2 linked regions of the Homo sapiens genome follow. The protein of the gene in region 1 purifies or fractionates together with the protein of each later gene. This does not show direct contact. Each region holds a gene or a part of one and is shown in the gene's direction. Other genes may lie near its edges.

Region 1 (3,651 bases):
TTCTCCCATTCTCTTGAGTGTGGGACCGTATTGATGGGTTTGTCTACTGTGTGTCTGAAACCTGCTCGTCCCACCACCACCGACAGCTGAGTGGATTGACCAGTCAGCTTTGCTTTATAGGACATAGGGTCTTGGCATCCTAATGCTTGAGTGAGTAGGACTTCACTTGACACACAGGCATCCACACTAGGTCCTCAGACTGCTGGTCAGTGTCTTTGGAGCAAGGTCCTCCATTCTTCTGTAGCAAACAGAGGGATTCCTGTCCCTTTCAGTGGGGCGTCCAGGGCCACAGCAGTTCCCACATGTGCCCCTGGCCTTGCTCCTGCTCTGCATACCTGCCGACTCCCAACTGGAGCCTATGTAGCTGTGGCTTCTGGATGTCTCCTACCCTATAGGATTTGTCTCCTGTGCCCCTCCTCCTTTTGTCTTCTGCAGATTTGTTGACATCTCATCTGTTCCTGGCCTCCCTCTTCCCCCATTTTCACTGTCTGGGGTTTTTCTCTTCATGCCTATTATGCCTGCAGTTCACAAGAGGTCAGAGAGATGGCTGTCTGTTCCCAGTGTGACATCTTCACCTGGGACCTCTGGAAGCATTTCTTGTCTGGTTTTCTCCCTTGATGATTTGGTTCATTCCCCTGGGTAGGCAGTGTGAGAAGCTTCCCCAAATTTGGAAATTATTATGTTATATAGAGCTGGGTGGGAGAATTATATTTGTTAAGTGAGCTTGTTCTTGTGAAGGCAGGCTGAGGAGCCTTGGGCCCTCTGTGTCGTGTTTCCATTGCACACAAGTTCATGGTTAGACATGATTTGGCCCAACATGTGTCTGGATCATTTCAGGAGTGAGTGGATCTGTTGTTCCATTTGCTCACGTTCCTCATGGTGTTAGAAGGTAGGGAGTGAAGCTCAGTTGCCTATTGTTCAATAGGACTAGCCAAGTAAATACCCTTTTCCGTGGTAAATTCCCCTATGAAAGGTCATGCAAGTGGAACTGCGATCTCATGAGAGGATGCTTCCTTGGAGTCTGCATGTGAACCTGGCAGAGCCGCCTGTGGTTAGCAGAATATCTTCGCTGTGTCCCCCAGTGGGCAGCCTTCTGCCACCTTCTCCCCTCACTGCATGGCTCAGGAACTATCTTTCATTTAGTAACTATCTGATGGGCTGGATGTGGTGGCTCACATGTGTCATCCCAGCACTTTGGGAGGCTGAGGCAGTAGGATCACTTGGGGCCAAGAGTTCGAGACCAGCCTGGGCAACAGCAAGACCCCTGTCTCTACAAAAAATAAAAATAAAATTAGCCAGGCATGGTGGCACGTACCTGTAGTCCCAGTTACTCGGGAGGCTGAGGTGGAGGGATTGCTTCAGCCCAGGAGTTTGATGCAGCAGTGAGCTGGGATCACGCCACTGCACTCCAGCCTGGGCAATGCAGTGAGGCCGTGTCTCTTAAAGAAAAAGAAGAAAAACTGACAGCGGTGACTCCTGCACATCATTTCTCCCATTTCCATTTTTTATTTACGAATATTTAAACTACAGTTAGGTTATGGTATTGTATTTCATTGGAAATACTAAACTCCAGTTTGGAAAATCTATCAGTTTGGGTTGTCTTTTTTTCCAATCATTTTATAAGCGTTTAATGAGCCATCTACCAAATGACATGGAGAGTAGCTTCCAAATTATTTTTATTCCACATACCTATTAGAAAAAAGTTTTAAGTACTTGATCCCAGTGTCTTCTTAATGCATACATTATACAGATACAAAATGTAAATGGAAGTTCTGTTTTATTTCCTCTTCTAATTACTGACCTGTGAACCTCCTGGGGTATGCATACCCTGCTTTGGAGACTGCTGGCTGGAATACATGATATGAAGTAAAAGGAACCCTACTCCCACAGCTGCCAGTCCAGTTCTGGAGACGGACAAGTGGTGGGGCAGGGATAGGTGTTCCTAGGGCGGTGGGGAAGGCCATGGGGCCAGTCTCTGCCTAGGACAGGCTCAGAGGGAGGAGGGTGAGCTGAGGCTTTTAGAGGCTTGGTTTTGTAAAGAACCAAGACAAAATGCAAAACCATGTGCGAGTGTTGGTGGTATATTGGTGAGCATAGCTGCCTTCCAAAACCAAAGGAGTTGGTCTCATACTCTTGGATGAAGACCAGGCTATAGTCAACCAGGCAGTGCAGTGGCTCATGGAAGGAAGAGGTGGTGCTTGTCTCTTGTACAGCAGTCCTGGGGTGAGCAATTCAGGGTGTGCAGCCCCCTCAGCTTTCTTGGTTGCTGTGGTCCAGGGCTGGGCTCCTGCGTCTCCCAGGTAGCCACAAGGGGAGGCAAGGAAGAAATACCACTTGTCTCCTCTGCTCACTTTTTGCTGTGACAATTGGTCTCCGTTAACTGGAGAAGGGAGAAGAAGATTGGGTCACAGCAGCTTCCACCACAGCATTTTACGTTACCAGTTATGCTGAGAAAGATTTTCTGGTGGATTTACTAAATGAGCTGACATCTTCAGGTTGCTCTAGGTATAAATTAGGCTGGTATGGTTTTCTTCACTGAGATGCCTGGTGAGCCTGATGACAGCGCTGTAGTGTGCAGTCAGGTACCTTGGAAACCATCACCACTCCCACCGTACAGCACACCAGTGGTCACCCTGATAGGAGAGATGATTTTCTTCTGCTGTGTCCCCAGGTCTCAGTGGCCCTTAGCAGCAGCTCCATTCGTGTGGCCATGCTGGAGGAAAATGGGGAGCGCGTCCTCATGGAAGGGAAGCTCACCCACAAGATCAACACTGAGAGTTCTCTCTGGAGTCTCGAGCCCGGGAAGTGCGTTTTGGTAAGTTTGGGCACCTGTGTGTAGGGCTCCCAGGTGGACTTCAAACCTGCAGTGATGCCCCTTTTGACCAACAAGCCTATTTACACTTAAGCAGTGAGGTTGTTAATTTCAGCTGCTGGGGCAGATGGGTTTTCCTGAGCATTTTCCATACTGCTCAGAGATCGTCTCTGTGGGCACTTGAGCTTTGGCCCTTTGAGGTCTTGGTCATTCCCAAGAGCTCCACTGTTCTTACATCTAAGGCAAAAACAAGTAAATTGAAAATGAAAAGCTAGGTTGAATTTTTACAGATGCTACTCTGGAGGGTACAGAGTTAATAAATTCAGAGAATCAGGCTCATTGACCAACTGGCTGTCCTTAGCCAGCTGCTGGTTAGGCATAGCTAAGAGTTCAGGACAGTGAGATTAAGGTGTGACTCCAAATGAACAGCTCACATGTTACCAGTTAGCAGACTCGCTCACAAATTGGGCTGCACGCCTGGGCCAGATCTGTTGGTGGCTCAGCTCCTTCTCCCCTGTGAAAGCTTTGAACCTTGTCAGTGGTGGCTCTGTGCTGGTGCCCAAGTGGAGGTCACCTACAGATAAATTGAGGCACAACATGTTCTGAACTAACTTGTTTCCTTTTTTTCTCCTACTGGGGTGTTTACAGGGCATGGTAAAAGGAATAAAGGTGAAAAGAAAAATATAATGTCTGGACAAAAGTCTTTAGAATTTTATACAGATATATTCTTCATATGTGCAAAGTATGCAATAAAGGTATCTGTTTTGGTTTCTATAAGACATGCTTGGCAGGCTTCTGCCTGGGCTTCCCTGGCCAGTGCTGACTGGCAGGGACAAACT
Region 2 (3,651 bases), on another chromosome or scaffold:
TGAGGTCAGGAGATGGAGACCATCCTGGCTACCATGGTGAAACCCCGTCTCTTCTAAATAAAAAAAAATACAAAAAAAATTAGCCGTGTGTGATGGCGGGCGCCTGTAGTCCCAGCTACTCGGGAGGCTGAGACAGGAGAATGGCGTGAACCCAGGAGGCGGAGCTTGCAGTGAGCCGAATTTGCGCCACTGCACTGCAGCCTGGGTACAGAACGAGACTCCAACTCAAAAAAAAAAAAAAACCAGGAACATTCCTAGAACAATGAGAAACTTTTGGAAATTTAAAATGTGTTAGATGTAGTGGAGGAACTCTCCAAAAAAGTAGAGTAAATAGATAAGAGAAGGGACCTAGAAGAGAAACATTTAAAAAAAAAATAGAGTACCTGCCTAGGAGGCCAAATATCTGTCTAATTCCTGAAGAAGCAGTGGAGAACACAAAGTGGAGAAATAATGGGATAGATTCCCAGGACTGAAGAACATGAATTTTTAGATTGGCAGGACCATCCAGTTCTGGAGCTGGCTTGTCCTGGCTCATGAGATCTGACTGTTAAACTTTCAGGAATTTTTGCAAGCTGATTGTTAAACAAAGTCGTTATTAAAACTTATTTCCAAATTATTTCCGATTTTACTGTTACTTAGGCTCTTGTGGTTTTTGCATCTATTTTATCTATATGGTGTAAATACTATATAATAAGGTGCTACAGCTCTTCTCTTGGCAACTGCACATTGAGTAATGTCACATTGGTACCTTGGCAGGAAGATTTACACCACAGAAAGCAGGAAGCACTACAAATCATGGCTTTTTTCCCCCAAGAAAAATTAAACCTTTATCAGCGCACCACTGGATTCATCTAGTATCCAGTACAGTCAATGAAAAAGACCCACACACAGAGGCATATCATCATGAAATTTTGGAACATTGGTGATAAAGAGAACATTGTGAAAACTTTGAGAAAGAACATACATTTCACATGTAAAAACAATAAGTCATCATAATGACATCAGACATCAATAATACTGAAAGCTTGAAGTCATTAAAATCATGCCCTCAGAATTCTATGAAAAGGGTGATTTGCAATTTAGAATTCTATATCCAAATAATAGGGTGGAATGGAGACATTTTCAAACCTGTGAAGTCTGAAAAGATTACCTCTCATGTACCTTTTCTAAGGAAGCCTATGGAGATGTACTTCAATAGACCACAAAAGAATGGTATGTAGGAAATAGTCTGACACTGGAGAGAGGCAAAGAGAGTCTTGAGGATAATGATAAAGGGAATTTGCAGAATGACTGTCCACCTGTCAGACCATTTGGAAGCACGAAAGTGGAGGAGTCCAAGAAAAGTGTGTCCAAGGAAAAAACAAAATTGTTAGAATACTGGTAGGTTTGAGTATATTAAGAAGAGATTGCCAGTTTTCCTAGTAGAGTTGTCAGCATAGGCTTCACTGAGGAGGTGGTGGTTGAGAAAGCTTTTGAAGGAAGTCAGGGAGCAAGCCATGTGGATAGCAGGAAGAAGAATATACCCAGCAAAAGGAATAGCATATCTAAAGGCCCTGAGGTAGATCTGATGCATTTGAGGGACAACAAGAAGGCCAGGGTGGCTGGACTGGAGTGAGCGAGGGGCAGAGTACTTGGAAATAGGGTCAGAGACCTGATTTGGGGTGGGGAGGTAGGCAGATACATAAGGCCATTCTATGGCTTTGGCTTTAACTATAGATGAGGTAGATTGTGTCATGTTTGAGCAGAGGAGTGATGTAGTCTCACTTATGTTTTAACAGAGTCACTCTGGCTGTTCTGTTAAGAGTAGAATGTAGGCAGGTAGGGTGGCAGCAGGGATACCAGTTAAGAGACTATTGCAGTGATCCAGTAAGTAATAGCTATGGCATTCTGTTTCCTGCCACTAGGATTTAAGTTCTTTACTGTCAACTGATGTATCCTAAGCACCTAGAAGAGTGTCTGGCACATACCAAGTCCTCTGTGATTGATTATTTGTTGTTTAACAGTGGTGGCTTGGATCAGAGTGGTAGCATTGGGAATAGTAAGTAATTATATTTTCAATGTATTTTGCAGGTTAGAGCCCAATTGATTAATGGAGGATGGTCTATGGGCCATGAAAGAACAAAGTCAAAGATAATTCTAATGTTTCTGGATTGAACAGCTTGCAAGAGAGAGTTGCCATTAAACTGTAAACCTGTGGGTAGAGCAGGTTTAGGGGAGAAGATCAAAAGTTCTGTAAGTAGAGATATCTCATAGTTTCTCAAAGGAGTGTTAGCTGTGTCACAGCCACCTGACGAGTCAAGTACAATAGGGACTGAAAATTAACTTATTGGAGTTAGCAATGTGCAGGTCATTGGTGACCTTGACAAGAGTAGTTTGAGTGAGATAGTAGGGGTGAAAGCCTCTTTAGGGTGGGTTTAAGAAAGAATGGGAGGAGAAAAGTTGGACAGTATGGAAAAGAGTTTTGAGGAGTTTTATTACAATGGGAGCTGAAAAGTGGTGCATTAGCTGGAGGGGTAGGTAGTGTTAGATTTTGTTTTTGTTATTTTTTAGATGAGAGGGAAAAAATGGCATGTTTGCATACAGATGGGACTGATCCTGTAGAGAAGGGGAAACAGTTTAGGAAAGTGGAAGAACTGCTTAAGTGTATGAGAGGGGTTGGGTGCTAGTGCACTGGCAGAGGGATTTGCCTTGCATGGGAGCGCAGAAAGTTATATATGTACAAATGTTGGGTAGATGTGCTGATGGGGGCTTTAAAAAAGTTATCTTCTGCTAACTTCCATTTGTTAGTAACAAAGTAAGCGATGCCATTGGCTAAGAGTGAGCATGGAGGAGGGGAGATGAAATAGTCATGAAAGAGCATGGGAGTCTGGAAGGACTATGGAAATGCAGCATGAGTGCCCTGCAGCATTAAGGGCCCACATAAAGTTCATGGCCATAAGTTTAAAGTGAGCATTGTATGTTTTTTCTACAGCCATGGAGAAAACCAAGTAGTACAGGCACGGAATAGGAAGAGTTGAGCTTAACTGGAGGCTGTAGTTTTTCTAAGCAAGTACCACAAAGCAAGAGAATTTAAGATTGTTGAGGATGTGTGCAACGGAGTGATTTAGTAATTTCATCTATGTGGAAGGAAGGAAGAGAGGATATGATGAGTGTAGGATGGGAAGAAGTTGGTAGAATCAGTGGATTATAGGTCCTGTGGGGGTTAAAGGATTGCTGAAGTTGGGATGAATAGAGGGAGTGAGCTGGAAAGATGGGAGAGAAGATGGTTGGAGAGCGTGACGGTCTACCCTGTGACTAGAGAGGGTTTGCAGTCGTTGGTAATGGTGAGGTTGAGGGTGTGACTGTGGAATAAGCAGTTGAGGTTGAGAGGAGGTCAAGGAACTAGCAGGAGGCTATGGTGCTGTAAAGAACCTTTCTGAGGATTTTGAAATTACCGAGAACTAAGAGAGGTATAGCTGGACAGAGTGACACTGGGGCAGGAACTAAAGTGTGAAGACATCGAAGAGAGTGACTGCTTTTAATCAGTGGGGAGCATGGAGAGTGGAGGTGGTAGGTGCTGTGGAGGAAGAGGAACTGTTTCAACTTGTAGATTATCACAGATGCTTTGATTTGTGGTCATCACAAAGCTGTGAGCCAGCCCCCATCATTTTA

Evidence for each region.
Region 2: the proteins of NUDCD3 (region 1) and DET1 purify together in Homo sapiens (affinity purification with a luminescence readout; one large-scale study listed by IntAct). This does not show direct contact.

The regions. Positions count from the first base shown.
Region 1 is NC_000007.14:44,403,604-44,407,254, reverse strand, and holds part of NUDCD3 (nudC domain-containing protein 3), read left to right. Parts: intron 1-2,671; coding exon 2,672-2,815; intron 2,816-3,651.
Region 2 is NC_000015.10:88,519,104-88,522,754, reverse strand, and holds part of DET1 (DET1 homolog), read left to right. Parts: intron 1-3,651. UniProt on the Homo sapiens protein: Component of the E3 ubiquitin ligase DCX DET1-COP1 complex, which is required for ubiquitination and subsequent degradation of target proteins. The complex is involved in JUN ubiquitination and degradation.